Regions from separate parts of the Homo sapiens genome. Here regions 2, 3 and 4 are each linked to region 1. The links come from fine-mapping of genetic effects on gene expression. A gene starts in region 1. Each other region holds a variant in brackets. All regions are shown on one strand. Distances are between the middles of the regions. Region 1 holds the start of TM6SF1 (transmembrane 6 superfamily member 1). Region 2 has its middle 19 kb from the start of TM6SF1. Region 3 overlaps LOC105370933 (a long non-coding RNA gene). Region 4 overlaps WHAMM (WASP homolog associated with actin, golgi membranes and microtubules).

Region 1 (8,107 bases):
CACATCACCATGCCCGACTAATTTTTGTATTTTTAGTAGAGATAGGGTTTCACCATGTTGCCTAGGCTGGTCTCAAACTCCTGACCTCAAGTGATCTGTCTGCCTCGGCCTCCCAACGTGCTGAGATTACAGGCTGAAGCACTGTGCCTGGCTTGCAAATATTTCTTGAGCACCTCCTATGTACTGGGCATTAATCTAGATGATGGGAATGGAACAATGAACGAGCCAGAGAAGGTTCCCAACCTCGAGGAGCTTCCATTATCATGGAGGAGAGATCCAGACCAGTAAACAAAGGCGTAAGCCAGATAATTTTAGATAGTAAAAGTACTCTGAATCAAATAAAGCAGGGCGCTTGATAGGCGAAAGTTCAGGAGGGTGGTCAGGTAAGGCCTTCTACAGCAGCTGAGTCAACTGAGGTCAGAGGCAGGAATCAGAGGGAGGAGACTAGGACATGTTTAGATGAGAGGCAGTATAGACCAAAACTAAGAGGAGGTGCGGATGGGGAGGAGCAAACAGACTTGAGTGATATTTGGAAAGTCACACTGGGAGAATTGTGTAACAAAAGGAATTCCGGAGAGGTGGGAACTGATGGCTCCCAGGCTTCTGGCTTGGGTGAGTGGGCGAATTGTGGTGCCACCAGATAAAATAAAGCAGGAGTGTGTCTTGAGGAAATGAGGAATTCTGTTTTGACATTGTGAGGTGCCACCGGGATGCCCAGGCAGCCATGCTAAGGGAATAACAGGTCAGGGCTTGTTATTTGGGATCTAGCATCATAGATGTGGCCATTAAAACCAAGTGTGTCTGAGAAAGAAACAAGAGAAGATGGTAGGCAAAAGAGGACACTCAGGGCCAGGTGTGGTGGTTCACACCTGTAATCCCAGCACTTTGGGAGATGGAGGCGGGTGGATCACCTGAGTTCAGGAGTTTGAGACCAGCCCGGCCAACATGATGAAACCCCATCTATACTAAAAATACAAAAATTAGCCGGGTATGGTGGCGGGCACCTGTAATCCTAGTTCCTTGGGAGGCTGAGGCAGAATTGCTTGAACCCGGCGGGGGGCAGGGCAGAGGTTGCAGTGAGCTGAGATTGTGCCACTTCACTCCAGCCTGAGTGAAAGAGCGAGACTTTGTCTCAAAAACAAACAAACAAACAAAAAACAAACAAACAAAAAAAACCCAGGACACTCAGGTTCAGGGAGCAGATTTCTAAATTGGAAGCTACTTGAGCCTGTGTCTAGGTTGAGCGGAAGGATCCAGGGCAGCCAGAGGGGTTCACTTATCCCAAAAGCCAGGGAAGGTTCCTGCGAAAAACTCTTCCCAACTACAAGCATTCTGACCACTCATATTTTCAGCATTAAGAGAGAAACTGGCCGGGCGCGGTGGCTCACGCCTGTAATCCCAGCACTTTGGGAGGCCGAGGCGGGCGGATCACGAGGTCAGGAGATCGAGACCATCCCGGCTAAAACGGTGAAACCCCGTCTCTACTAAAAATACAAAAAATTAGCCGGGCGTAGTGGCGGGCGCCTGTAGTCCCAGCTACTTGGGAGGCTGAGGCAGGAGAATGGCGTGAACCCGGGAGGCGGAGCTTGCAGTGAGCCGAGATCCCGCCACTGCACTCCAGCCTGGGTGACAGAGCGAGACTCCATCTCAAAAAAAAAAAAAAAAAAAAAAAAAAAAAAAAAAAAAAAAGAGAAACTGTTGTCAACAAAAAAATCATGTAATTCCCAATATGTATATCACAATACCTTGAAACTTTGCCATGTCACTTGGGTCCCTTGTGGGCTCTGAGGGAGCAGCTCTGAGACTGATGCAACAAGGTTGGGTGTTGATGGAAGGGATGGGCTGGCTTGGGAGCCTGGCTGGGAGCTCAGAGGTATAGGAGGAAGTGTCTCTTGTCAGGGAGGAAGTAGGAGTTTAAGGAGAGTGGTGAAGGTTAGGGGTGGAAGAGGGTGATGTGCAGGTGACAGGTGAGGACACCTCTTGGAGAAACTTTGGATATGTCACAGTGTGGGCCAAGGCTTAAACGTTATGCACTCAGAGCTGGAGAAGCCTTCAAGAAGAACTAGGATGAAGGATTAGGAGAACTGGCATTTGAAAAGTGGAGTGGCCCTGGAGCAGGCCATACCTCCTCGTAGCTCATTTTCCTCATGTCTAAAATGAGCCAAATGGTCTTTTAGAGGCTAGGTGCGGTGGCTCACACCTGTAATCCCAGCACTTTGGGAGGCCGAGGAGGGAGGATCACTTGAGCCCAGGAGTTTGAGACCAGCTTGGGCAACATAGTGAGACCCTGCCTCTACAAAGAAGTGGTGCGAGACTGTAGTCCCAGGAGCTAAGGAGGCTAAGCTGGGAGGATGGCTTGGCGTGGGAAAGTGGGGACTGCAGTGAGCCCTCATCTCTCCACTGCCTCTAGCCTGGTTTGCAGAGTGAGACCCTGTCTTAAAAAAATAAAAATAAAAATAGGCTGGGCGCGGTGGCTCACGCCTGTAATCCCAGCACTTTGGGAGGCCGAGGCGGGCGGATCACGAGGTCAGGAGATCAAGACCACGGTGAAACCCCGTCTCTACTAAAAATACAAAAAATTAGCCCGGCGCGGTGGCGGGCACCTGTAGTCCCAGCTACTCTGGAGGCTGAGGCAGAATGGCGTGAACCCCGGGAGGTGGAGCTTGCAGTGAGCCAAGATTGCACCACTGCACTCCAGCCTGGGTGACAGAGCGAGACTCTGTCTCAAAAAAAAAAAAAAATAAAAATAATAAATAAATAAATAAATAAATAAATAAAATAAACCCCTCAAATGGCAACAGCAAAAACACATAAATGGTCTCTTAAATTCCCTGGAAGTTGTAAAGACAGTAAGTACATGCCGGTACCTCCCTCAGTTGCTTGAGCTGTTCTCCTGGAACTCACTGCCCTTCAGATAGCCACAACACTTGACACACAATATTTTCCATACCCGTAGGCATCTATCATTCAGAGGAAGAGGCTTATCTTCCAGTCTTTGTACCCTGCAGGGCCCAATGCAGGCTGGCTGGTGGGCACCTGGCCTCCAGGAATGCTTCCTGGAATAGCAATGAATGGCGCTCTAGTCTCTTAGAGTCTCAGCATTTATGTCCATTTCAATTAAAGAAAAAAAAAAAAAAAGAATCGCAGGAGGTGGTGTAGTGAGCAGCACAGGATAACGCGCTTCGTAGGTATGAACTCAGTTAACCCCACAGTCACACTATGAAGTGTGTTATCCCCATTTCCCAGATAAGGGAAAAGACAGAGAGGTTAAGTAATTTGACCAAAGTCAACAGCTGGTGACTGGAGAGCCAGGTTTAAAAACCGGATGCCGGCTCCGTGCAGCAGCCCGCCGATGGCTACTGGAGCGGAGAGGTTCCGAGGTTTCAGGGGCATTTTGTCCTTTCCCACTTCTGGGCCGTGGGCTCCCCCATAGACGATCCCGCGGGCCCTTCCTCCTCTGACACCCTCGGATCTGGTTCCACCTTTCCCGGACCGCAGCTCAGCCCCGCGCCTCTCCAGCTCTTCGATGACCGGTTCCCGGCCGTGCCCCGGGCCCTCCCTCGGAGCGCGCGCCGCCAGGGGCACCTGTCCCTGCGCGGGGGTGTCGCCGCCCCTCGGCGCCGCCGGGCGCTTGCCGCTGAGCCGTGGCGCCCCTGGCAGGAGCACTGCAAGGACGCCTCCCGGGACTGCACCGCGGCCCTGCGCACTTGGGGCGACGGGGCCAGGCGCGGGGGACGGCTGCGGGCTGGGAGGGCGCGCGGAGGAGACACCGCTGAGGGGACGCCGCTGAGGGCGCCACGCGGGGGGCGCGGCTGAGGCGCCTCGAAGGGCAAGCGCCAAGGGGGCGCGGGCGCCGCCGGAAGCTGGGGCGGGGCGCCCAGCGGGATGCGGTGAAGGGCGAGCGGCGCGGCGGCTGCGATGAGTGCCTCTGCGGCCACCGGGGTCTTCGTGCTGTCCCTCTCGGCCATCCCGGTCACCTATGTCTTCAACCACCTGGCGGCCCAGCATGAGTGAGTGAGCCGGCGCGGCGGGGGTCGCGCCGAGGGGCGGCGGGAGTTGGCTCGCCGCGACGGGAGCCTCGCAACTTTTCCGAGGGGGCTGGGACCGTCCGCCGCGGGACAGAGGTTCGTGGCCGCAGGGGCTCCCCGCGCCTGGCCAGACTAGGGGGGCGCCCCAGGGGTCGCACGGGCCGGGTCTTGGAGCCGGGCCCTGAGGTGCCCAGGCTGGCGCATTTCGGGATGTTGGTGCCAGCACCGCGCCAGGTGCCCGGGGTCACAGGCGTCAATACGGCCATGCCCCTGCCCTGGAGGGGCCCAGGGGCCGGTGGGGAGCGGAACAAACACGGACACTACGAACCTGGCCGTGTCAGCTCGTTTGTGCCTTGTTCTTTTTGCATCTCACGGGAACGTTTCCATGTATGGACTTTCGCATACTTATCATTTCTTATTAATTTTAGAAACTGTTGTGAATGACTAGCAGAAATAGCCCGGAACCAACAGGCAGAGACGTGGGTTCTAGGCCTGGCTTTGGCACTGACGGTGTCTGGCCTGACGGTGTTTGGCACTGACGGTGTGGTCTGGCCTCGGTTTTCCGGTCAAGTGGACTTTGTGTGCGTCCTATTGTAAGGTTCCACCGAGACCTCTTTGTGAAGGGGCGTTGTGAATGGAGAAGTGCTTCCCAGTGCCTGCGCTGGGGTAGGATGGGGACAGGCAGCAGAGGCAGAACACTTCAATGTGAAGGAAATGGGTGGGGCTGATGGAGGGGGACAGGGCTTGGGTTCGAAGCCCTGCCTCCCACTCCACTGCAGGGATCACGGACTAACCTGCAGCCGGCAGCTGAAGGCCTGAGGGTCGCCGGGTGTTGGGACAGGCGCCAGCCTCTGTTCCTGCTGATGTTGGTTGCTGTCTGGAGGGAGGAGGAAGTAACCTGCTATGTCTCTCAGCTGTTGGTGCTAAGGAAATTGCATCAGTCTGTAGGCTGCAAACCCCCTTCAGCTGGTCAGGCCGTGGAGTGTCTGTACATAGGGTGGTAACTTCCTCCTCTCCAGCTGCCTGGCCGCCTGATACAGGCAGCACCCACACTGAGTGCTCACCAGGCACCAGCAGTGTCTACCCTTGGTCTGGCCCAGTCTCTGGAGGCATCCCCTGGAGGCAGCTGCTCTGGGCCACCGAATATTACATGCCTGTCAATATAGTGCATGGGGGACCCTGTGCTCCAAAAAATGGCATTACGGGTAGTTCAGTGAAGATATACTGAGTGCCTACTGTGTGTTTGGCACTGTTCCAAGTGTTGGTGACATAGCTATGAACAAGCCAGAAGAGGCTGTGGAGGCAGGTAATGAGATAGACATCAACAAACATTAATACATCGATAGTGACATGCTATGAAGATAATAAAATAGGGTGACTGGGGAGGGGGCTGGTGGCCAGGGAAGGCTTCTAGGAGGAGGTAACACTTGAGCTATGGGAAGATCTGGGAATGGAGCCTGTCGGGCAGGAAAATGGAGCAGTGCAGGGGAAGGAATTGGATGGGCGTAGTAGGTATTTTGGAAGGTGAACAGATGGGGCTTACTGAAGAGGGTTGCATGGCAGCAGAGGATTTGAGGATGAGCCCTAGGTTTTGGCCTCAGCCACTGGGAAGATGGTGATGGCATTTACTGAATACAGACTGAACTATGTATTGCTGTGCATGATGGAGCGCACTGGCAAGCACTACAGCATTTTGAATAATTAGTGTCAGCCATTCTTCCTGTCCTCTTGCAGGTTAAAACCCCCGTGGCCTTTGATTCCTCTCTTCTTTCTCCACTCCCTTCCTCCTACTGTCTGCTTCCCCATAAGTCCTGGGGCTCTAGTGTCTGTTCCCTCCTTTCAGTTCTCCCTGGCACTGGCCCTTTCTGACCTGGACTGTGGCAAAGGCTCCGGTGCAAGTCTCGCTGCCCAGCCCCGCTGCGTGTTTCTCGGCCTCGGCCCCCCAGTCCCAGCCCACGCACTAGTGCTCCTGCCGCACCAGCCTGCCTTTGCTCCTTGACCATTCCTCCTCCTCTCCAGCCTCTAGCCCGGACTCCTGCTGCTCCCTGACAGGGATGCTGCCTTCCTCCTATCGCAGACTGTTGAAGCCGCACCTGGACTTTATGGCCACTTCTACCTTCTGCAGACCCTCCCTCTCTCTCCTTTGAGCTCCCTCAGTCCCTTGTTTGCACCTTTCTCCCGAGAGTTACTTTCCTGTGGTAAGAACTTACCTGCCCCGGCTATAGCTCACCCCTCTGTACTGTCCTGCCCAGGCCAGCGCCGTGTGCATCGTAGGCACTCAGGTATGTTTGACTTTGTTGAATCGAGTTTCCTTCCCACCAAACCTTTTATGCAACTCTGAAAACCAGAAAAAGAAAATTAGATTGAGAGGTCAGGAAAGGATTGAGCGTGTTCTGTCTCCCTCTCTCACTGAGAGAGACACACTGCTCACACTCATCCTTGCATGTCCCCTCTCAGTAGGTGTCTGTTCATAGAAGGGCATCAGCAGCCCTTCCCACCCCCCAAGACTAGCAACTTTCTCATCCTGGGGTTAGTCGCAGCCCTTACCTGTCCCTGAGTCCCTGCAGGACCTGTTTCTTCCTGTGGTGAGCAGGTCCTGCACTTGGCTGTTGTAGGAGGGTCTCTGGGGACAGTGCCAAGAGTCAGAGACAATCTGCTGCCCTAGTTTCCCTTCATTCTTCCCTCCTCTCCTGGAGCTAAGAGCATGAGAGGACGCTGTGAACCAGTTCACACTGCTCTGTCCTGCTCCAGAAGAGCACCAACCACGCGATCCTGCTGGCAGTGAGTGCAGGCCCTTGGTAGGAGTGAAGACTGGAGTTGTCACCTGACCACCACCTGCCTCAGGCTGTTCACCATTAAAATGCCTGTCAGCTGACCCAGCACACCCACCTCTTCCCTCATGGGATTCTTCAGCCCAGCATCATACTCTTGACCCACACTGGCTTCCTCCTTCTTCAGCTCATCCCCACAGGAGGAGCCTGGAGCAACCACTGAAGTGCAATCACCAGAAACCTCCTATTTTTCAGTTTCTCACCTGGACATTGAAACAGCCACCCTCATTCTTTTTTAAAAAATGTAATTAATTGTTATTATTTTTTGAGACGGACTCTTGCTCTGTCATCCAAGCGGGACTGCAGTGGTGCAATCTTGGCTCACTGCAGCCTCCAACCCCCAGGTTCAAGCAATTCTACTGCCTCAGCCTCCCAAGTAGCGGGGATTACAGGCATCCGCCACCTCGCCTGGCTAATTTTTTGTATTTTTAGTAGAGACGGGGTTTCACCATGTTGGCCAGGCTGGTCTCCAACTCCTGACCTCGGGTGATCCACCCGCCTCGACCTCCCAAAGTGCTTGGATTACAGGTGTGAGCCACTGCGCCCGGCCTCATTCTTATCATAGAATTGATCCATCTATCATTTATCCATCCATCCTCCATACATTCACCCATACTCCATCCATCCACTCATCATCATCTATCCATCCATTTATCCATCATCCTCCATCATCCATCAATTCATCCATCATCCATCCATCCATTTATCCATCATCCTCCATCATCCATCAATTCATCCATCATCCATCCATCTATTCACCCATCATCCACCCATTCACCCATCATCCATCCATCCATTCATCCATCATCTATCCATTCATCCATCATCTATCCATCCTTTCATCCATCATCCATCCAACCATTCACCCATCATCCATCCATCTATCCATCCACTCATCGTCTATTTGTTCCCCCCTTCCCTCCCTCCTTCTATTCTTATCTTTCTCTCTCCTAGGGGACGGTGATAGTTATCCAAAGGTCCCGATGTTGGGCTGTGGTGGTGTGGAGGGGTCTCAGTTGAGGAGTGGTGCTTGTAGCTGCTCCAATCTGAAGAGGTCCTGGTGTAGCAGGCCATTGGAGTGGGCCAGGTAGTATTTTGTCTAGAATTGGAAGCCCTGTCAGTGCTGGAGGTGTGAGAGGGAGAGTATTGCTGTTGGACTGCAGGAGAACTCCTAGTGGGTAGAGCTCAGAGTCCATTGAGATAGGTTCCTCCATGTAGGCAGGGACTTCTCTTATTTATCCAGTCTCC
Region 2 (8,107 bases), 19 kb before region 1:
GTGAATATTAGGGGAGGAGATATAGTAGGAGATGAAGAAAAAACTACTTTCTCTAGGTCATTTTTCTATTTTCAATAGAAAAAATTTTCTATTATCAATCATTTAGTGTATATATATATATTTTTTGAGACAGAGTCTCTCTCTGTTGCTCATGCTGGAGTGCAGTGGCATGATCTCGGCTCACTGTAACCTCCACCTCCTGGGTTCAAGCAATTCTCCTGCCTCAGCCTCCCGAGTAGCTGGGTCTACAGGCGTGCACCACCATGCCCAATTGATTTTTGTATTTTTAGTAGAGACGAGGTTTCACCATGTTGGCCAGGATGGTCTCTATCTCTTGACCTTATGATCCGCCCGCCTTGGCCTCCCAAAGTTCTGGGATTATAGGTATGAGCCACCACGCCCAGCCTAGTTTATATTTTTGATTTTAATAACTAATACATCTGTTAAAATACCTTTATAGTTACTATAGATGTATAATACATCTGTTAAAATACCTTTATAGTTGCTACAGATGTATAGTACATCTGTTAAAATACCTTAAGAGTTGCTACTGAACGCATCGTGGCATTGCCAGTCTGGGTGAGGTAGGTTGCTGCCATACCTTCCCATGAGTTACAACCTGGGTGCCCGTGCCTAACTCTGATCTTCTGGTTCCTGTGCCAAGGTTCCCACCAGAGATGGAGGGTGACAGTGGTTGCTGGGCAGGAGTTGGGGAGACGGGCCAAGTGAGGCCCAAGGCACCAGGGGGTAGGAAGCAAGTGGCTTGGGTTGGTCCCTGGGAAGTGGGGAGGCAGCAGGAGGTGGGACCCTCCATGAGCCAGGGTGCAAGCTCCAGTGCATGCCCTGTTGTTTCATCAGACTTCACTTACAACACACAGATTCAAAGATCAAATTACTAAGGGCCAGGCACAGTGGCCCACACCTGTAATCCTGCACTTTGGGAGGCCAAGGTGGGCGGATCACTTGAGGTCAGAAGTTCGAGACCAGCCTGGCCAATGTGGGGAAACCCCGTTTCTACTAAAAATACTAAAATTAGCCAGGTGTGGTGGCACACACCTGTAGCCCCAGCTACTTGGGAGACTGAGGCAGGAGAATCACTTGAACCTGGGAGGCAGAGGTTGCAGTGAGCCAAGATCACACCATTGCACTCCAGCCTGGTGACAGAGCGAGACTCCGTCTCAAAAAAAAAGAAGATAAAATGAGTAAGAATTTTTCAAGATGGCAACTGCAAAGCACTAAACCTCAAATAGGGGGCTCTCCAGAGCACAGGGCCCTGTGAGACTGCACCTGTCCTATGTCCATGAAGCAGTCCCTGTCTATACAGTACGTGGTAGAAGTTTTTAGAATATGGTCTGGGGTCCTGAGGATCATGGAGACCCTTCAAGTGATTTGTGAGATCAAAAGCATTTTCATAAAAATACTAAGACATTTTTGCCTTTTTTACTCTCATTGTCTCAGGAGCGTGCAGTGGGGTTTTCCAAAGGCTACTTGACTTGCGATACTGAAACAGATGGAATGCAGAAGCAGAGAATCCTGCTGTCTCCTATTAAGCCAGACATTGAAGAGTTTGTTTTTTTGTGTGTTTTTTGTTTTCATTTTTTTTGTTTGTTTTTTGAGACGGAGTCTCACTCTGTTGCCCAGGCTGGAGTACAGTGGTGCAATCTCAGCTCACTGTAACCTCTGCCTCCCAGGTTCAAGCAATTCTCCTGCCTCAGCTTCCTGAGTAGCTGGGATTATAGGCGCATGCCACCACACCCAGCTAATTTTTGTATTTTCAGTAGAGACGGGGTTTCACCATGTTGGCCAGACTGGTCTCGAACTCCTGACTTTAGGTAATCTGCTCGCCTTGGGCTCCCAAAGTGTTGGGATTACAAGCGTGAGCCACTGCACCCAGCCTTTTTGTAGGGCTTTTTTGTGTGTGTGTGTGTGTGTGTATTCTTTGTGGTTTTCTATATATAGGATCATGTCATCTGTTAATAAAGATAATTTTACTTCCTCCCTTCCAATTTGGATGCTTTTTTTTTTTTCTTTTTCTTGGCTAATTGCTCCATCTAGGAGTTCTAGTACAGTGTTGAATAGCAGTGGTGAAAACAGGCATCCTTGTCTTATCCCTGATCTTAAGAGAAAAGTTGGCCGGGCACAGTGGCTCATGCCTGTAATCCCAGCACTTTGGGAGGCCGAGATAGGTGGATCACCTGAGGTTGGGAGTTCGACACTAGCTTGACCAACATGTAGAAACCCCCGTCTGTACTAAAAATACAAAATTAGCCAGGTGTTGTGGCACATGCCTGTAATACCAGCTACTTGGGAGGCTGAGGCAGGAGAATCACTTGAACCCAGGAGACAGAGGTTGCGATGAGCCGAGATCGCGCCATTGCACTCTATCCTAGGCAACAAGAATGAAACTCCACCTGAAAAAAAAAAAAGAGGAAAATTTTGCTTTTTACCATTGAGTATGATGTTAGCTGTGTTTTTCATCAGGTTGAGGATAGTCTCCTTCTATTCCTAGTTTGCTGAATGTTTTATCAAGAAAGCCTCAATAATTTTTAAGAACGTGGAGTGTCCGTGAGACCCGTTTGAGAACTGCAGATCTAGAGTATTAGTTAAGAGCAAGGGCTGTAAAGTTAGTCTACCTGGTTTTGAACTGCAGCTGGGCCACTTATTTGCTATAAGACCTTGGCCAATTTACTTAACCTTTCTGTGCCCTAGTTTCCTTACTTGGAAAATAGGAATGACGATAATAGTAACATGATCTACCTCAGAGGGTTAAATTAAAATGAGATGAATACATATTAGAACGGTGCCCAATGTAGGATAAGTGCTCAACAAATGTTAGCAAGTATTCAAAGAACCAAACCAATTTCAATACTGGCTGACAATTTCTGTATTACTCTTTTCCTAAAGTCTACCCTACAAGGATTTAATAATTTGACTTCACTTTTGATTAACACAAGATGCCTCATTTTTCAAATTTACATTTCTGTAATTGTTATTGTTTACATTTTTGTCATAGTTGTTTTTCTTCTTAATCCATTTTAACTGTCCAATTGTGCTTTTATTATTAGCTGTCTTACCCACTGCTTTGATACAGTCAAATATAAGATAAATAACTAAATTTAGGCCAGTTTATACCACATTATCAAGGCTGTTGTTGTGTCAATAAAAATAATAATAGGGCTCCAAGGACTGAAATTATCTGTCCCACATGTTCTGAATCTTTTAAATAATCTATGAAGACT[A/G]GGCACAGTTGCTGTGATTCTACTGCAGTGATATAAATATGACCTTCCACGAAAAAGCATGTCATGGCCAGAAGTAAAATTCAAAGCAGCAGGTTGGGTTTCAGAGTCTACGATGCTAGAATATGCTGCCTCTCTGGTTACAGGGAAATAAATATAGACCAGACTGATTATGTGAACACATTTTATTTAACTTTGCCCATCTTTACTCATTTCCCAGCCAACAGAAACTAAATCAACCCAGCTATAAGTAGGTCTGCTTATCTCTTTCCTTCCAGCCTCAGAAATTTCCCTTCTTTTCAAGGCTAAATTTTCCATCTTTGCTGTTGAGTTTATTCCCTTGCTGTCTTGCTAAATTACCTGTCCATTTTTTTTTCTTTTTTTTTTTTGAGACGGAGTTTTGCTTTTGTTGGCCAGACTGCAGTGCAGTGTTGCGATCTTGGCTCACCACAACCTCCATCTCCCGAGTTCAAGCAATTCTCCTGCCTCAGCCTCCTAGGTAGCTGCAATTACAGGCATGCGCCACCATGCCCGGCTAATTTTGTATTTTTAGTAGAGATGGGGTTTCTCCACGTTGGCCAGGTTGGTCTCGAACTCCTGACCTCAGGTGATCCACCCGCCTCAGCCTCCCAGAGTGATGGGATTACAGGCGTGAACCACCGTGCCTGGCCTGTCCATTTCCTTTCTGGTGACTTTGATGTCTCCATTTCCACTGGTTCCTTTCCTTGATATCCACAAATACATAACTAATTTCCCTAACAGAAAAACATCTCCTCAAAGCCTCTGCTTCAGCTTCTGAGTGTCTTCCTTTCTTCTTCCTTCCTATCAAAGTTTCTTCACTCCACATTTTCATCTCCTCACAGTCTTCATGCCGCTGTGGTCTGGCTCTGGCCACCACTCCCCTGAGTGGCTCTAAGGCCACTGGCTGGTGATCTCCTACCTGCCAAGTCCATGAGTCTTTTTCTGTCATGTTATTTGACCTCACTGGGCTTGGTGGTTGACCATTCACTCCTTGAAACTCTCCTTACCTGGAATTTGTAACACAGTTTTATAATTTTTCACACTTGTCTTTCTCTAATGTTTTCTTTTCAGTTTGCTGTATCACAACCTCCTCTTCTGCCCCACCGTGGGCACTGGTATTACCCATGCTTCCATCCTTGGCTGTCTACTTCCTACTCTCAACCCACTTTCTGCTTAATCTCATGGATTCCCATGATTTCAGCTAGTGCTGGTGATCTCCAAAGCTGTATCTCCAGCCCTGATCATTCTTAGCATAATACTTGTTTTGAATATTCAAACATCTAGAAATCTGTTGGTGTCCTACAGACATGTCAAACTGAACTGACTACATCTCCTTCCCTGGAGCCTCTTTCAATTCCTTGTAAGTAAATTTCTGCTACCTTAAAAAAAATCCAGCCAAAATCCTGGTAGTGAAGCGGGAAGAATGTCTGGCTGTCTGACGATAGCCTGTGGCCTCAACAGATCATTTATATAAGAATGTGACAGAAATGTGCTAGCTATGTCATACAGTTGTGTCCAGAGATGAGGGGAAAGAGTTCATCACATTCCTATTTCAGGGAATAACACCACCAACCAGTTAGCCACATGCTGTGGTAGAAACTAGCTAAGCCCCAGTTGCTATCCTGCTATCCTGGTCTACTCATCAATAGCTAGGTGAATTTGGGCAAGGATTTTTGTTTGTTTGTTTGTTTGTTTGTTTGTTTTTAATTGAGACAGAGTTTCTCTCTTGTTGCCCAGGCTGGAGTGCAGTGGCGCAATCTCAGCTCACTGCAATCTCTGCCTGCTGGGTTCAAGTGATTCTCCTGCCTCAGCTTCCTGAGGAGCTGGGATTACAGGTGCGCGCCACCACGCCCAGCTAATTTTGTATTTTTAGTAGAGACGGAGTTTCACCATGTTGGCCAGGCTGGTCTCAAACTCTTGACCTCAGGATATCTGGCTGCCTTGGCCTCCCAAAGTGCTAGGATTACAGGCGTGAGCCACTGTGCCCGGCCTGGGCAAGGTTTTAAACCTTGCTAGGTTTCTATTTCTTCTTCTGTCAAATGGGGATAATAACATTGTTGTTTACCTACCTAGGATAACATAAAAGATCAGATTGTTCAATTAGACTCACAGGACTCAGTAATCTTATCCAGTATTGGCCTTTACTGAGAATTCGAAAGATACACATGATATTGAGACTTGGGCCAAGCACAGAGATGCTGAGGACCACCAGTGCAGCTCCCGGTCCTCTCTCGCCATATTAGGATGCACCCTGGCACAAAATGGACATAGGAGGTTTTTAAGTGATGCATGCAGGATATAACTTACACAAAGAGGTCAGGAAACACCTTCGTTTTATACTTCAGTAATTACACAGCTGACAGATCAGCTATATCCTGGTAAATTATTGCATAAATAAGGGCTTTTTGTTATCTTTCTGATTGTAAATGCCATCAATAAGTATTTAGGAGATTGGGCCAGGTGTGGTGGCTCACGCCTGTAATCCCAGCACTTTGGGAGGCTGAGGTGGGCGGATCACAAGGTCAGGAGATTGAGACCATCCTGGCCAACATGGTGAAACCCTATCTCTACTAAAAATTAGCTGGGCGTGGTGGTGCCTGCCTGTAGTCCCAGCAACTCAGGAGGCTGAGGCAGGAGAATCGCTTGAACCTGGGAGGTGGAGGTTGTAGTGAGCCGAGATTGTGCCACTGCACTCCAGCCTGGCAATAGAGTGAAACTCTGTCTCAAAAAAAAAAAAAGCATTTAGGAGATTGACCTGGGTCAATTCTTTTTTCTTTTTGTCCCCTTTCCTCAGATGTTCTGAAGGTTGGAAATATGACTTACTACCATTACCTAACAGTTATTTCTTCTTCTTTCCTAGTTAATACAACCTGATTTCATTTGGGCCACAACATGTACAAAGAAGGAATACCTGTCCCCAGGCCTCAGAGAAAAGTCATGATTGATTGAAGCTTAGCCCGTTCCCCTGCTAGAGATTGCTTCTGAACTCAGCATGTGGCCAATTATGGCCAATGAGATGGAAGAGTCTGGAAGCAGGCTTTTGGAAAGATTCTTGTAGCCTAGTTAAAGATAAAATCCCGGAAAGGGAAAAGCCTTGTGTTGACAAGCTTAAGAGTGAAAAACCAACGTGTTGAGGAGGAGGATTAGGAAGACATAAAGAGGCCGGGTTCTTAATGACATCCTTGAGCCACTGCAGCTAAAAAGGAAACTTCTTTCTCCAGGATTCTTATGTCAGATTTTCAAATGTCTTCATGGCTTAAACCAGATTTATGCATTCTGTTACCTGTAACTTCATGTGTTCCCAGTGAAAACAGTACCTTGTAGAGTTGCTTGAGAATCAAGACAGGCACTGAAAGTAATGCGTCAAGCATACAACAAGTTTCTATCTTATAAGCACTACCCAACATCTTTTTCTCCTTTCTTCCCTGGTTTATAAAACTTGATTTTATTTGGGCAGCCACAAGCACAAGGAAGGAGGACCTTGTTTCCAGGCCTCAGAGAAGAACCCAAATAGGTCTCAGCATCTCTCAGTATACCTTAGTCCTTTTAGTTCCCTTTCCTTTTCCTTCTCCCAGCCAGCTGTCATCCCTAAATTCTTCTGTGGTCCATGTTTCTCAACATCCATTTAATCATCAAACTCTTAGATTTGATTCCTAATTAACCTTTCCTTTCTCCTTTCGTTGCAGCCGCCATAGTCAAGACCCGTTCATTTGTAGCTTAGATTACTGCTCTTCTCAGCTCTTTGCTGCCTAGTTCATACCCCCTCACCTCATTCTCTGTATATCTACCAGACTAAGCTACTAAAATGGCCAAGCTGAGCATGTCACTCCTCTGCTTAAAAGTTTCACTAGGATGGGCGCAGTGGCTCACACCTGTAATCCCAGAAATTTGGGAGGCTGAGGCGGGCAGATCACCTGAGGTCAGGAGTTCGAGACCAGCCTGGACAACATGGAGAAACTCCATCTCTACTAAAAATACAAAATTAGGCCGGGCGCAGTGGCTCATGCCTGTAATCCCCGCACTTTTGGAGGCCAAGACGGGCAGCTCACAAGGTCAGGAGTTCAAGACCAGCCTGGCCAGCATGGTGTAACCCCGTTTCTACTAAAAATACAAAAATTAGCCAGGCATGGTGGTGTGTGCCTGTAGTCCTCAGGAGGCTGAGGCAGGAGAATCGCTTGAACCTGGGAGGCGGAGCTTGCAGTGAGCCGAGATCAGGCTACTGCACTCCAGCTTGGGCAACAGAGTGAGACTCCATCTCAAAAACAAACAAACAAACAAACAAAACACAACAAAATTAGCTGGGCATGGTGGCAGGTGCCTGTAATCCCAGCTACTCAGCTACTCAGGAGGCTGAGGCAGGAGAGTCACTTGAACCTGGGAGGCAGAGGTTGCAGTGAGCCAAGATCACGCCATTGCACTCCAGCCTGGGCAACAAGAGGGAAATTACATCTCAAAAAAAAAAAAAAAAAAAAAAAGGTTTCACTAACCTTCCTCCCCCGGCCAGGTGGCTGGGAGTTCCTAGATTATGCTGTGGGATTATAGCGTCTGGGCCATTCTACCTGCTCTAACTACCTTTCTTCTGAAAGGCACTCTCTGCCCTGGTCTTTCAGGGTTCACAGTCTCTATCTAACTAGCCTGCCTCCCTAGCTGAATTAATCACTCTCTCCTGATGAGGTTCAGGACATGTTACCCCAAAAGATAGCATCTTGGCATTTGAGAAACAGCAGAATTAGTAAGGTCACTCTCACCTCCCTCTTGCCCTTCTTTGGAGTGAATCATAAAACCCTCACTCCAGAAGTACCCTTCCTATGTGCAGAGGAAAGGGGCATTAGGAACATCCTAATCCTGAA
Region 3 (8,107 bases), 250 kb after region 1:
CCAGGCTCAGGTGATCCTCTCACCTCAACCTCACTTGGCTGAGTGTAGTCAGCTGGGACTACAGGCGCACACCACCACATTTGGCTAATTTTTGTATTTTTTTGTAGAGATGGGGATCCACTATGTTGCCCAGGGTGGTCTTGAACTCCTGGGCTCAAGCGATCCTCTTGCCTCAGCCTCCCAAAGTGCTGGGGTTACAGGTATGAGTCACCACGCCGGCTTCTTTGCCTAATTTTATATAAGGTTGTCATTTTATTGATTTGAACTTGCTTGAGTGTGTTTGCAGTGCTTTTCAATCATGGCCACACACTAGAATCACCCAGGGAACTTTTAAATAACAGGCCCCACCCTGTGAAATACTCTGATTCCAGTGGGCTGTGGTGATGTCCAGGTGTTGAGTTTTAGACTTTCTAGGTGAGTCTGATGTGCAGTCAAGGTGGAGAGTCCCTGGTCCAGGTGATTTAGATAGCAGTGGGTGATTAGGTAGGCTAGAACGCAGGGTCACAGGGAATAAGAAGTCAAGGAGCTAAGAGGCCAGGGTGTTGGAAGAATTGTGTATATCGTTGCATCAGTCTGCTTGCGCTGCTGTAAGAAAATACCACAGGTGGATTGGCTTCAACAACAAAATTTTATTTTCTCACAGTGTTGAAAGCTAGAAAGTCCAAAATCAAAGTCTGGCTGTTTTCCTAGCTTGCAGCCAGACACTTGTCACTGTGTTCTCAAATGGCAGAGAAAGAGGGTGCTCTGGCCACCCTTCATTTTCTTCTGAGGACACTAATTCCATCTTTGGGGTCCCACCCTCATGACCTCATCTAAACCTAATTACCTCCCCGAAGGCCCATCTCCAAATACACATTGGTGGTTAGGGCTTCAACATAATACATTTTAGGGGGACACGTACTTTCAGTCCATAACAGTGGTGTCCACTATTTCATTACTCATGTTGTAATTTTGAGCTCATTATCTTTTTGTCTTGAGACTTGTTGGTTTTGCTATGTTAATCTTTCTTCTATTGTGCTTGGTTCTCACCTCTGTTCTGTATATTCACTCCACTTTCATTTGTTCCTCTTCACAGTCATATCAGTCACAGGTTCAGAGGGCAGCCCATTTGTAGGACCCCATTCATCCGTGTTTACCCCCAAATTAGGAGTAGAAACCCACATCTGGTCATTGGAGATTAATGGATAAAATACTTTTAGATTGCTTATTCTCAGGCACCCTCATTAGACCTGTACAGTACCCAATTTTTTGGAGAGTTTTTAGGAGGCTGGGTTAGGTAAGAGCAACTAGTTTTGAAATAGAAGTAGGTGTGCATGCCCTGGAAGCACAGGAAATCCTCAAATCTGACAAGTGATTTCATAATTTGATCCAAAGCGCCATAGGCTGAAGGCAAGGAGGACAAGTGCAGTGAAAATCAAAGGAAGAGGCAATATGGGGACGTGGTATGCACCCTGCAGAGAAAAGCAGAGGATCATCCTAGCCCAGCCTTGCCACCAACTTGCCAAGGGGACCTGGGCCAGCACTGGCCCACCCTGGACTCACTTTATCCTTTGGTAATAGAAGGGGCTGGAGGGGTTTCTGAGGTCTCTTCCAGCCCTACATGCCTTTAACCAGGAGAACAACATGAAACTCAAAACTCTGCATTTAGAATTTAATTGTCCATGGATACAGTAAAGTCTACATAGGTATCTTCTCTCTGGTTTATAATTTTTTTTTAAGTAATTAAATCCTTAATTCAGGAGAAAAGAATTGGGACAACTGGGTCTAAAGTGTGTAGCTTCCGCATCTTTACATCTGCCTGTGGTCCTAGTCGTGGAATATTTGCCAAACAGTAACCACTTTGTTGAGGGCATTTTACCAGGTAATGATGTTTAAAGTGCAGCATAGTGGCTTTCAAATATGAATACTAAAACATTTAAAATATGCACACATGACATATAGTTCTAGAAAATTTCAAGGAAAGGAGGGTTCTATAGTACCAAAATTTATTCACCAATTTCTTGCCTGCCTTCCTTCCTCCCTCCTTTCCTTCCACGAATATATCAGCATCTTCCATGTGCCAATCATCTTAGTTTGCCCGGGACTTTTCCAGCTTTAACACTGAAAGTCCCGGGTTCTGGGTACCCCTTAGTTCTCAAATAAATGGGGACAGTTTTTCAGGCACTGTACAAAGCACTGAGTATATAGCAGTAAACAAACAAAAACCAAACAATTATAATAGCTCGTCTATCCCAGGCATTATTTTAAAGACAAAATTTATGAGTAACATAATAAATCATCCTTTACTCTATCATATACTTTTCCACAAAGAGCTCCTAAATTTGACTTCAAATACAAGTTCCCAGATTACCAAAAGGTAGTTCTATTGTATTTGAATAGGGTAAAATTAAAACACTGAGATTTATTTATGAAGTAATAATTAACAAAATGTGGAGTTGTCGCAGTACAGTGAAATGGCTAGTTCCCATATAAACTCAATATCTATTCAAGACTGTATTAATGACTTAAAGCTAACTTTAAATCATTCTTTCACCTTTTTCTTCAGCAATCAGTTTAATAGCCACGCAATTGAAAATGTCTGAACAAAATGCTATAAAGAACCGTTCACTGGCTGGGCACGGTGGTTCACGTCTGTAATCCCAGCACTTTGGGAGGCCGAGACAGACGGATCACGAGGTCAGGATATCGAGATCATCCTGGCTAACACGGTGAAACCCCGTCTCTACTAAAAAATATACAAAAAACGGGCTTGGTGGCGGGCGCCTGCAGTCCCAGCTACTCGGGAGGCTGAGGCAGGAGAATGGAGTGAACCCGGGAAGCGGCTCTTGGCAGTGAGCCGATATCGTGCCACTGCACTCCAGCCTGCAGCCTGGGCGACAAAAAAAAAAGAACCTTTCACTAAAATATAATATACATCCACGTTTTAACTATACAGCTCAATGATTTTTACACGGTGAAAACACTGCATCATTTTAAAGTACTTGCATGTACACCATCTCACTTAACTTTCACAGCCATTCTGGAGATAGGCAAGACAGATGGCATTATTTACAGTTCAAAAACTGAAGCCCAGGCAAATTAAATGGCTTGTGCAGGATCACTCAGCTAGTAAGAGGCATAGCTGGGATTTGAACCCTGGTCTCTGGGCTCTTATTGTCAACTCCTGGTCTCCATTTTCTATGCTGGAGTAATACGTAAACAGCAGAAAGAATGAGGAAGGAGGGAGGGAAGACAGAGAAACATTACTAAGTCACATTTCTGGGCAGTAGGGCACTAAAGAGAATCACTCTGCTTGTTTGCTTTCAGTCAAGAAAAATGTTTAGATATTCAGCACAATCAGACTTAACATTGAGACCTCTTTCATTAAATTTCATCATATTCTATAAACAGTAATTTGTCCTCAAATATTCCCAGGGTGATGTAGACAGAACAAATAAGACAGAGTCCTTCTTCAGTGTTAAGACAATAGAGGACAAAGAAGATTAAGAATGCACAGTCTTTCTCGTGAGGACTTTGCAATTTGTAGGTGAGACAGTATGCAAATGGCTGCATTTCGAGAGTGATGTAGTGCCAGAAAGGAGAAAGAAATTACCTCTAGAGAATACCATAGAGGCAGCATTCATGGAGTTGAGGTAGCATGTGAGCTGGGCCTGAGAGGCATTTCATCTGAGAAGGCAGGGAATGGAGGTTCAGGCAACAGGACCTGAGTCGGTAAAGGCATGGGAATGGGGGTGAGGGTGGGGAAAGAAAGTAAAGGACATTTGTTGCAGAACAGTGACTTGTCAATTTAGCTGGGAAGCTGTACTGAAGGAAGACCACGCTTTGGTTCCTTTAGCACATCAAATGCTTTGCCTAGCCGGTCCAACTCCCATCGTCGCTATACACACCTTTGTTTATGCAATCTACTTTCTCCCAAGAAGCTACCTGAGGGAACCATGGAATTATATACCTGGCAGTTTGAGAACAAAGGTAAACAAAGGGCAGACACAGCCTGAGGTCATAGAGTGAGCTGGTAATAACATCACAAATTCCTAAAGGGAAGGGTAGTCTGGTTGCAGCTGCAAACGCCTACAGGAAGGAGGTAGGCACCTACTCCGGTTCCAGCACGCTCCATTTAATATGCTTTTTCTGACCATGGCAGCAGATCTGGGTACCCAGGAGAGTCCTTCCTTGCATCTAGGTTTGAGTTCTCAGTAAGAATCAAATTTCCTGCAAGGAGATTCCTCTCAGGGACCCAAGGGCACCTACAAATCGTCAAAGTCATGAGCAAATAGGCTTCCTCTTGTTCCTTATCTGTCATGAAACAGTTGCTCCCTTTAGTAGATAACCTTTTTGGATTAAATTGACGTCATCTGTACAGATACAAATTTAAATAGCCATGCATGTGAGAGAGATAATCATGATGTTCATGTATGTCAGGCAGTGTGCATTTCATTAAAAAAGAGAAACTAGGCCGGGCCAGTGGCTCACGCCTGTAATCCCAGCA[C/T]TTTGGGAGGCTGAGGCGGGCGGATCACGAGGTCAGGAGTTCGAGACCAGCCTGGCCAATATGGCGAAACCTTGTCTCTACTGAAAAAATACAAAAATTAGCCGGGTGTGGTGGCGCGAGCCTGTAGTCCCAGCTACGTGGGAGGCTGAGGCAGAAGAATCGCTTGAACCTAGAAAGCGGAGGTTGCAGTGAGCCAAGATTGTGCCACTGTGCTCCAGCCTGGGTGACAGAGTGAGACTTCATCTCAAAACAAAAACCAAAAAACCCCCCCCAGAAACTAATATAGAACTTAGAGTTCATTAATGCAGCCCATGATAAAGTAAGTTTTTTTCAGCATCCATAAATAAAGTTTTATTAGAACACAGCCATACTTATTCATTTATCTATTTTCTATGGCTGCTTTTATTTTTATAATTTTTTTTAAGTTCAGGGGTACATGTGCAGGTTTGTTACATAGGTAAACTTGTGTCACGGGGGTTTGTTGTACAGTTATTTCATCACCCAGGTATTAAACCTAATTCCCATTAGTTATTTTTCCTGATCCTCTCCCTCCTCCCACCCTCCACCCTCTGACAGGCCCCAGTGTGTCTTGTTCCCCTCTGTTGTGTCCTTGTGTTCTTATCATTTGGCTCTCACTTATAAGTGAGAACATGCTACCACATGGTTTTCTGTTCCTGCGTTAGTTTGCTAAGGATAATGACCTCCAGCTCCATCCATGTCCCTACAAAGGACATGATCTCGTTCTTTTTAATGGCTGCATAGTATTCCATGGTGTATATGTATTATGACTGCTTTTATGCTGTAACAGTGAAGTTGAATAGTTGCAACAGGACTACCAAGTATAACATATTTACTCTGTGGCCCTTTGCAAGAAAACTATGGTAACCTTGGTCTAAGAAAACAGTCAGTTTCGGTTAGGATCCTGTTTAATCCTTGTGACTTTACAGTTAAGTGGTATTAGGAACATTTTGTAAGCCTGGTGCGGTGGCTCATGCCTGTAATCCCAGTACTTTGGGAGGCCGAGGCGGGCGGATCATGAGGTCAGGAGATCGAGATCATCCTGGCTAACATGGTGAAACCCCGTCTCTACTAAAAACACATAAAAAATTAGCCAGGCGTGGTGGTGGGCGCCTGTAGTCCCAGCTACTCGGGAGGCTGAGGCAGGAGAATGGTGTGAACCAGGGAGGCGGAGCTTGCAGTGAGCCAAGATCACACCACTGCACTCCAGCCTGGGCGACAGAGCGAGACTCTGTTAAAAAAAAAAAAAAAAAAAAAAGAAAGAACATTTTGCCAAAGAACAGGGTAAATAAATTGTCCAAGGTCACATAGCTAGTAGGGGGAAGAGCCAGCCTATCCCTACAGCCTGTTCTCTTTCCAATATATCCCATTATCTAGTATTTATTGGTTTTGTGGGGGTGTTACCTTTAAAAAAATTTTAGAATCGGGGGTACGTGTGCCTAAGTTTTAATAGAATAGGAAACCAGAACTGAAAGCTTATTTCTGTGTTCATAATAACTCTAAGCTTCAAGGGCACATTCCCTGCTGTATCCTCAAGGCTTAATGAATGGTTGAATTACTGAATAATTCTTCTTTTTTTTTTGAGACAGAGTCTCACTCTGTTGCCCAGGCTGGAGTGCAGTGGTGCGATCTTGGCTCATGCAAGCTCCGCCTCCTGGGTTCACGCCATTCTCCTGCCTCAGCCTCCTGAGTAGCTGGGACTACAGGCACCCGCCACCACACCCAGCTAATTTTTTTGTACTTTAGTAGAGATGGGGTTTCACCGTGTTAGCCAGGATGGTCTCGATCTCCTGACCTCGTGATCTGCCCGTCTCGGCCTCCCAAAGTCCTGGGATTACAGGCGTGAGCCACCACGCCCAGCAGAATTACTGAATAATTCTAAGTAGAAATTCTAAGAAATGATTCTAAGTAGTAGGAACACATCCTGACTCTTGAGGCTGGTGAGAACTTTTTGGTTAGATTAGAACACATTCCATCATTCGTTTCCCTCCTATTTTCACTCAGTGGTTCACAGGCTTTCCATGATAAAACTAGTGTTTTTGGAACATAGAAAAGCACGTGCTGGCTGGGTGGAGTGGCTTATGCCTGTAACCTCAGCACATTGGGAGGCCAAGGTGGGAGAATTGCTTGAGCTCAGGAGTTCAAGACCAGCTTGGGCAACGTAGCAAGACCTTGTCTCTACAAAAAATTTGAAAATTAGCAGGGCATCGTGGCACGTCCCTATGGTCCCAGTTTTTCAGGAGGCTGAGGTGAGAGGATTGCTTCAGCCTGGGAGGTTGAGGCTGTAATGAGCCGTAATTATGCCACTGCATTCTAGCCTGGGGGACAGAGTGAGATTCCGTCAAAAAAAAAAAGAAAAAGAAAAAGCATGTACACCACACAGACAGGCATTCACACACTCTGTCACATAAGTGTTTCCAAGACTGGAGAGGCTGGAGTCACTGCTTAGTGGTGGTTTACATAGGATTTTTTTTTTTTTTTTGAGACGAAGTCTCGCTCTTATCCCCTAGGCTGGAGTGTGATGGTGCGATCTCGGCTCACTGCAGCCTCCGCCTCCCGGGTTCAAGCGATTCTCCTGTCTTGGTCCCCCTGAGTAGCTGGGATTACAGGCGCCCGCCACCACGCCCAGCTAATTTTTGTATTTTTATTAGAGACGAGGTTTCACCACATTGGCCAGGCTGGTCTCGAACCCCTGACCTCAGGTGATCCACCCGCCTCAGCCTCCCAAAGTGCTGGGATTACAGGTGTGAGCCACCGCGCCCGGCCTACATGGGATTCTCGACTGCCCAGCAGAGAAGTCTGATTGGGATTCCTGAACACACTACCTGCAGTCAGAGAGGCTGACCTGCATGGTGACAAAGGCTGACTGCTCACTCACGACAGCCAGCATCTCTTCTGGGTTCCACTCAGGGGCATATAGGATCAAGGCCCTAATTCATGCCCCATAGGAGCCGATTCCTCACATTAGTCTCTCCAGACCCAAGAAGATGCCCCCCCCGCCCCCAAACTCAATTTAAAAATAGTCCAAAAAATACACTTCTCATTAGATTTATTTTTCTTTCACATCATCCCGCAATTTTAGTTCATGCACACAGCGCAGCATAATTAAAACCAAACTCAGGCCTTGCCTGAAAGTCAGCCCCGTTCCTCTGAGTCATCATCCCCCAGCTCAGCTAACAGACCTTCATCTGGTGAGGGGTCCACCGGGGAGGGTTGAGGCAGGAAGGCAGGAGGAAGCGTGGGTCTGGCTGGAGCCTCACAATCAAAGCCTCTGTTCAGTTGTACCTTCCCCTCTTCCCTCCTCCACCGTCCTCTTCTCTGGTTGGGACTCTCTTAAAGCAATCATGTCTTCTATGAAAGGCAAGGCCTGTTGGGACATGAAGCAGCCATGGAAGGTCCTCCAGGCAAGATTTCCCATAGAAAGTTTGGCCAAATTCATAAATTAAGTTGAAAATTCGATCCTGTTTGCTGCCAAGTGGGGCTAATTAATTTCTGTACAGACTGATGAACAGGAAGCACACTATTCACATTATTTCATCAACAATTAATTCACTAAGCTCAGATTCATTAGTTTCCTGGCATTCGCCATCCTAAACAGTGTTG
Region 4 (8,107 bases), 290 kb before region 1:
TATATACTTGGTCAAATGGAAAGCCGGCAGAAGGTGAACTTTATTCATCAGTTTGGAATGACCGCATTAGTGCCCTTTTAAGCTTGAAAGAGGTAGTTTGAGAGAGAGTAATTATTTGAGTGGTAAACTTACTGAACCTAAGGGGAGGGGAAGTACAAGTTCACAGAAGGGTTTAGGAGAAAATATGCCTTCTAAGTCCACACCCACAGTTTATTAAGGAGAGCCAGGCTGGAGTCTCGGCTCACTGCTGTTATTAACCTGAATGATTTTTTTCTGTGCATTCTTCTGAGGAAGGGGAAGTGAAGAGAAGAATTCAGCCTAAGCTAAATGTAGAATAAGCTTTCCAAATTAAAATGGTTTTATAAAAGGAGCTCGTTAGTGGGGTCATTTTTGTACTGTGGGTTTTATGTGTAAATATCTACACACCCACTTCTCGTGTTGATTTCACTTTAGAATATGAGGAAACCACAGGGGAGTTTCAGGCCAGTCAGCGTTTGATCTTCAACTTTATCGTCTTCACCTTAGGATATGAGGAACCCACAGGGGAGTTTCAAAAATGATATCATTTTGTATCAGACTTGTTTTTTACACACTCGGTTTCTCACAGAGATAGGTGGTTTCTCCTTAAAATCGAACATGTTTATGATGTATTTTACTGTAGTAAATACTATCAGAAAAGTTATAGTTTTCCCAAATTTAAGTTCACTCTGGGGTACTATAGCATGAATGTAGTTCATACTGTTGAGCTAGCCGTTCACGTTAGTGTAGTTCACATATTTATCTGGAACTTAAAAATGAGGGGTTGGGAGAGGAAGCTTAAATTCAAAACGTGTTCAAATATATAATTTTAATATTTAGAATGGAAAAGCAATTGATTCTAGAATTAGACCAATTGCTAGTATTGCTAGGATATATAAAATGAAGCTGAATGTTTTAACTCTGGAATTTTTCTGAATAGTTTAAGAAATAAGGCTGAAATGTATCACTTGCCTTAAGTTTACTTTTGCGTGTGTGTTTTGATTTTGTTCAGTGAGGCTTTCACTTAAAAAAAAAACCCATAATATTATTACCTGGATAAAAAACTATAGCTGAAAGTAGATCACTTTATCCTTAAGCAGAAGGATGGAAATAGGAGAATTTAAGAATGTATTGGTTGAAAAAAATCTATATTATTTGATTTTATTTCTCTTCTTCTGGGAGTAAAATAATTTCCTGCCAAGTGAGTCCACCTAGATTATACACTGTTCAGTTTATTTTCTGCCCTGCAGCAGAAGCAGTAACCAGCAGAGACTGGAACCACAGTTGAGGCTCTGTAAATGAGGTGACTGCTAAGGGCTTCATGGGAATATTAATCTGGGGCATTAAGAGAATCAACATGCTGAAGTACTTGGAGACAGCTCTGTAATGTTTTATGAGGTCTTTTTTTAAAATTTTTTTCGAGATGGAGTCTTGGCACTGTCGCCCAGGCTGGAGTGCAGTGGCGCCATCTTGGCTTACTGCAACCTCCGCCTCCCGGGTTCATGCTATTCTCCTGCCTCAGCCTCTCCAGTAGCTGGGACTGCAGGCGCCCGCCACCACGCCCGGCTAATCTTTTGTATTTTTAGTACAGACAGGGTTTCACCGTGTTAGCCAGGATGGTCTCGATCTCCTGACCTCGTGATCCGCCCACCTCAGCCTCCCAAAGTGCTGGGATTACAGGCGTGAGCCACCACGCCTGGCCCTTACGAGCTTTAAAAAGGAATACAGCCTCACAACACCTTTACAGTCAGAAAAGTGAAATGAAAAAATATCCACAACCTCAAACCTTCTTTTGGGTCCCTTTCGCTGCATACTTAGTGCATAGTTGAGATTAAACTTTGCACTCTGCCTCTCCATTTAATATTATAAAAGTGTCTTTTTTTTTGAAATGGAGTTTCCTTCTTGTTGCCCAGGCTGGAACCACTGTCTCCCAGGTTCAAGCGATTCTCTGCCTCAGCCTCCCCAGCAGCTGGGATTACAGGTGTGAGCCACCATGCCTGGACAAAAGTCTCCATATTATTAAACAATCTTCAGAAGCACAGTGCTGAATGACTACAGTAATAATATTCTTACATGGATATATCATACTTTTCTTAACCATTCTTGTTTTATTGGGCATTTTTGATGGAGGATGATAACATTTTCATATTTAATCAGTATTTAAAATTGATGTATTAAAAGTTGAGAACATGAAGGTTTCTTTTGTTTAGTTTTGTTTGTTGGGTATGTATTAAATATACTGTCCTGACTTGAGCTTTATTCACATTTGCTTTCTAGGTTATTCAAGGACACGGAAAAGCCAACACCATGGTAGCATTAATGAACGTTTACCAAGAGGAAGATGAAGCATACCAGGAATTGGTTACCGTGGCAACCATGTTCTTCCAGTACTTATTGCAGCCATTTAGGGCTATGCGAGAAGTTGCAACTTTATGTAAGCTTGATATTTTGGTATGTTTTTTTAAAATTTTTACTTTATCAGATTTACTATTTGTCATAAATTATTTCTTTATTTACACTTAATGTTCAATCTCTGTTTGTACTTTGTTTGGGTTTACCATTATGTTTATTTATTTACTTATTTATTGATAGAGATGAGGTTTTGCCATGTTGCTCAGGCTGGTTTCGAACTCCTGAGCTCAAGCAGTCTGTCCACCTTGGCCTCCCAAAGCACAGCATTACATGTGCCTAGTTTACCCTTATATGTACATATTGAGTTTATATTTAAAATTGATAGAAAATGAAGACATTTACGTTGGTCATCTTAATAGCTTAAGATTCCTACAGATTTGAAAGAGTTAAATGTTTTTTCTGGTGATGAATTTTTTTTTTTTTTTTTTTTTTTTTTTTTTTGAGACAGGGTCTCCCTTTGTCAGCCAGGCTGGAGTGCAGTGGCATGATCTTGGCTCACTGCAACCTCCTCCAGGTTCAAGCGACTCTTCTGTCTCAGCATCCTGAGTAGCTGGGATTACAGGTGTGTACCACCACGCCCAGCTAACTTTTTTTGTATTTTTAGTAGAGACGGGGTTTCACCATGTTGGCCAGGCTGGTCTTGAACTCCTGACCTCAAGCGAGCTACCCATCTCAGCCTCCCAAAGTGCTGGGATTACAAGCATGAGCCACTGCACCCAGCCTGATGAATTGTTTTTGATGTGATATTTATTTGCTTCAGCTTGTTTTCCTCTAAGGACTTACGCAGATTTCTTAAAATAAGATGAAAATTTAAATAGCAGGACCCTAGATTGTAATTCAGTAACTTAAATTTTAGTAAATGCTGTTATCACTCTTGCTTCATTGAGCCATCAGACAACCCTGTGACATCATTCAGAAAAGGCATGCTTATTCCAGTGTTACAAATGAATCTAGAGTCCAGAGGAGTTAAACAGCTTGCCTTGGGTCTCAACAACAGAAATCAGAAGACACCTAAGATGTCTCTTGGTTTCTGCCCCCTGCACCGGGCCATCTTTCCACATATAATCTCATGACCCTTGCCAGATGATTGTATTATAAAAATAGTATCACATTTAGATGAGAGTCATACCACTCTAACCTGTGGATAAAGTTGTTCTGTTCATTATTTTGAAAGTCTATTATTTGGAAAGTCTACTTCTTGCATACATTTTTCCTTTCTTCTTTTTTTTTGAGATAGAGTTTTGCTCTTGTTACCTAGGCTGGAGTGCAGTGGCGCAGTCTCAGCTCATCGCAACCTCTGCCTCCTGGATTCAAGCAATTCTCTTGCCTCAGCCTCCCGAGTAGCTGGGATTACAGGCATGTGCCACCACGCCCAGCTAATTTTGTATTTTTTTAGTAGAGACGGGGTTTCTTCATGTTGGTCAGGCTGGTCTCGAACTCCCGACCTCAGGTGATCTGCCTGCCTTGGGCTCCCAAAGTGCTGGGATTGCAGACATGGGCCACCACACCCAGCCTATATTTTTCCTTTCTTTTTTTTTTTTTTTTTTTTTGAGACAGAGTCTCGCTCTGTCGCCCAGGCTGGAGTGCAGTGGTGCAATCTCAGCTCACTGCAACCTCTGCCTCCTGGGTTCACGCCATTCTCCTGCCTAAGCCTCCCGAGTAGCTGGGACTACAGGTGCCCGCCACCATGCCCGGCTAATTTTTTTGTATTTTTAGTAGAGATGGGGTTTCAACATGTTAGCCAGGATGGTCTTGATCTCCTGACCTCGTGATCCGCCCGTCTCGGCCTCCCAGAGTGCTGGGATTACAGGCGTGAGCCACCGCACCCGGCCTGTTTTTCATAAAAGGTGTTTTAAGATATCACTCACAGATTTTATATATATATATATATATATATATATATATATATATATATATAGTACAATTCAGTGATTTTTAGTATATTCAAAGTTGTGCAGTGATCATTACTGTGTAATTTCAGGACATTTTCACCCCCAAAAGAAACCCTGTACCCTTTAGTCACTCCCAACCCTGGGCAACCACCAATCTACTTTCTGTCTCTGTGGATTTCCCTACTCTGGACATAGCAACAGCATTATTCAATATGTGGTCCTTTCACTCAGCACAATGTTTTCAAGGCTAATCCACGTTGGAGCAAATATCAGGATTTCATTTCTTTTTATTGCTGAGTAATATTCATTGTATGGATATATTACATTTTATTTATCAGTTGATGGACATTTGGGTTGTTTCCACTTTTTGGCTATTATGAATAATTCTGTGAATGTTTGTGTGTAAGTTTCTGTGTAGACATATGTTTTCATTGCTCTTGTGTATGTACTAAGGAGTAGGATTGCTGGGTCCTGTGATTACTCAATGTTTAACCTTTTGAAAGACTGCCAGACAGTTTTCCAAAGTGGGTGCATATTTTATATTCCCAAAAGCAGTAAATGAGGGTTCCGGTTTGTCCACATTATCACCAGCACTTGTTACTGTGTGTCTCTTTGGTTACAGCCATCCTAGTGGGTGTGAAGTGGTATCTCGTTAT[G/A]GTTTTGATTTGTAATTCCTTGTCGGCTAACTTGTACATATTTCTTAGGCTTTGTAGAAGAAAAATTGCATATTGGATGACATAGCAGTACACGTCTTAGTTCAGGCTGTTATAACAAAGTACCGTAGATTAGTGGCTTATAAACAACAAAACTTTTTTTTCACAGTTCTGGAGGCTGGGTAGTCTGAGATCAAGGTGCTCACAGATCCATTGTCTTGTGAGGGCCAGTTTCTTAATTTGTAGATGACTGTCTTGCTGTGTCTTCGCATGGTGAAGAGCAGAGAAAGAGAGATCCTGTGTCTCCTCTTCTTTTTATAAGGGCATTAATCCCATTCTTGAGGGTTCCACCCTCATGACCTAATTACCCCCCAAAGGCCCCATCTTCAAATATGATCACACTGGGGATTTAGGCTTCAACATATGCATTTTGGGGGGAGTCCAATACCAGTACATGTTATAAGCATGAATATACAGATACTATATTTTAGGTGATTATATTACATATCCCTAAAAGAAACAGTAACAACAGCTAATACTTAAGTGCTGTGTTCCAGGCCCTATGCTGAGTGCTTGACAACACAGATCACTCATTTAAACAATTGTGTATTATTATTAATAGAAGCATAAGTTGACAACATTCCTCTCTAGAAAAAGTTATTCTAGGCATGTGAAGTGAAAGTGGGTTTTTTTTTCGCTTTATGCCCCAGAGTGTCCTTTTGTCTTACAGGTGGTGCTCAGCTTAGAGCCTTATTCATACGCAGTAAGGGACTGCTGAATGAATGAAAATTTAATTGACTGAGTAGTAGTGTAGTTAAATTAATCCATGTGACCAATTTCCTTTCAATTTCCTAATGGCTCTACATAACTATTAGCTCTTACTAAGAAAATTTTCCCTTCTGTCTGTAGAAGTCTTTGGATGAGGATGACCTAGGTCCTAGAAGGGTAGTTGCCCTGGAGAAAGAAGCTGAAGAATGGACCAGACGGGCTGAAGAAGCTGTCGTCTCTATTCAGGATATCACAGTGAATTATTTTAAGGAGACAGTAAAAGCATTAGCAGGTGATAATTTAAAAAATGCTATATGAAGATACATGTAATTGATTATCATTTTATTCAAATACCATTTGAGTCCCTCTTACGCACTAGGTACTATGTTTTCTAGGTGCTGAGAATTCAGTGTCAAGCGTTAAGAGACGTTGTACAGTCTGGTGAAGGGAGAGAAATCTTAATTATCTATTCATTGAAGCACATGGAAAATGGCAGTGACAGTAAATGGCACAAAGAAGAGAGACATGGGCTCTGAGGGTCTGTGAGAGAGAAATTGGGCTTGATCAGGGTGGTGGTCACTGAAGGCCTCTGAGAAGTGGCGCTTGCCCCAATATCTGAAGGGTAAATGGAAGTTGAGAGAAAATAAAAAGTGAGGAGTATTCCGGGCAGAAGGAATAGCACTGCCAAAAGTCCCCTGCCTTGAGGGAAGTTGGCAAATTAGGAGCTTAAAGAAAACCTGCGGGGCTGGATCGCAGAGAGTGCAGGACAGTGTGGTATGAGGGAAAATGCTGGCCAGACAGGCAGGGGTCAGACCATGCAGGGGCTTGTGGGCTGGGTGAAGGACTTTTTTTTAGTCTTAAATAATTGTTGATAAAAACACCAAGTAGGAAACAACTTAACGTCTGTCAGTTTGTTAAGTTATGGTACCTTCATAAAACAGAAAACTACGTAGCTGTTAAGCATGATTCTTGATTTTTTTTTATGAGTGGCAAGAGTTTCTGATACATTGTGCAGAATCAACAAGATAGAAAGCAGAATGATGATCCTGGTTTTGTGGTCAAACTATCCATATGAGCCTGTCTGTCTAGCTAGACATAGAAACAATATGGAAGCAAGTGTGCCAAAATATAAGAAGCAGTTGCCTCAACTAGGTGAGATCATGACTTACTGTCTTTTTAAAAATGGAATACCTAAAATTTTATATCAATGAACATGTATTATTTTTATCATAATAAAAAAGTTAATAAAATTTCTTTTAAAAAGGATATTCTGCAGGTAGTATGGAGGCAATAAAAAAAGGATTAGCTCATGATAAATGTTTCCCTTTTTAATGAGGTGTAATTATATTTTATTTTTATAATCCAACAGGAATGCAGAAAGAAATGGAACAGGATGCGAAGAGATTTGGTCAGGCTGCCTGGGCCACAGCAATTCCCAGGTTGGAAAAACTTCAGCTAATGCTAGCTCGAGAGACTCTGCAACTCATGAGAGCGAAAGAGTTGTGTTTAAATCACAAAAGAGCTGAAATTCAGGGAAAGGTAAGACAAAGATAAACATAACTTTGTTTTAAAAATACACTTTTATTTTTAAAACATTTTGTATAAATAAAGGATACAAGTGCAGTTTTTGTTCCATGGATATATTGTGTAGTGGTGAAGTTTGGGCTTTTAGTGTAATCATCACCTGTATAATGTAATTGTACCTATTAAATATTTCTCATCCCCCCTCCCACCCTCTTACTCTTCTGAGTCTCCAGTGTGTATTATTCCACACTGTGTATACACATTACTTAGCTCCCACTTATAAGTGAGACCATGTGGTAAAGCACACTTTTATTTTTAGATAGCACTTTTCTTTCCAGGCATCGTTAAAGAGCTTCTTTTCTTCGCTTATTCCAACACCATCTTCTGTGGAAGGTTAGACATAAAGTTTTCCTTTGGTTAAGATGTTTCAAAATACCATATTGTAGGTTTCACTTTATAGTAATACCAAGCTCAGTATTGAAATGGGTACTGTACTTGAAAATCAACCCAGCAATGTTTTCACTACAACTTTAAAATAATCAAAGAGATACTTCACTGCATAGTCACTTAAATTTTTTCCTATAATCTTATGACTTTAAAGCAGAAAACACTGTAAACACCTGTCTTAGTTGGCTCAGGCTTCTATAACAAGATTAAATATCACAGATTGGGTGGCTTAAACAACGGACATGTATTTCTCACAGTTCTGGAGGCTGGAAAGTCCAAGATCAAGGTGCCTGCAGATTCACTGTCCGGTGAGGATCCTCTTCCTGTCTGGTAGACAGCTGCCTTCTTAACTGAGTGCTCATATAGCCTTTCTTCTGTGTGTATGTTTAGAAA

The links.
Region 2: its variant is fine-mapped to the expression of TM6SF1 in whole blood (INTERVAL, PIP above 0.99). The same link has a PIP of 0.9 or more in monocytes.
Region 3: its variant is fine-mapped to the expression of TM6SF1 in whole blood (INTERVAL, PIP above 0.99).
Region 4: its variant is fine-mapped to the expression of TM6SF1 in whole blood (INTERVAL, PIP 0.91).

The regions. Positions count from the first base shown.
Region 1 is chr15:83,103,763-83,111,869 of GRCh38, forward strand. It overlaps TM6SF1 (transmembrane 6 superfamily member 1), which reads left to right and starts at 3,883. Exons shown (of 10, transcript NM_023003.5): 1 at 3,883-4,010. The coding sequence starts at 3,919. RefSeq lists silencers at 3,511-3,790, 3,821-3,940.
Region 2 is chr15:83,084,402-83,092,508 of GRCh38, forward strand. No RefSeq gene overlaps it. Among named protein-coding and RNA genes, the nearest start is that of TM6SF1, 19 kb to the right of the region's middle. The variant A/G (reference allele first, on the strand shown) is at 3,240.
Region 3 is chr15:83,349,017-83,357,123 of GRCh38, forward strand. LOC105370933 (a long non-coding RNA gene) reads left to right here. Exons shown (of 3, transcript XR_932544.1): 3 at 1,375-1,570. Among named protein-coding and RNA genes, the nearest start is that of BNC1, 68 kb to the left of the region's middle. The variant C/T (reference allele first, on the strand shown) is at 4,487.
Region 4 is chr15:82,810,808-82,818,914 of GRCh38, forward strand. It overlaps WHAMM (WASP homolog associated with actin, golgi membranes and microtubules), which reads left to right. Exons shown (of 10, transcript NM_001080435.3): 2 at 2,296-2,469; 3 at 5,885-6,035; 4 at 7,113-7,282. Among named protein-coding and RNA genes, the nearest start is that of WHAMM, 5.2 kb to the left of the region's middle. The variant G/A (reference allele first, on the strand shown) is at 4,979.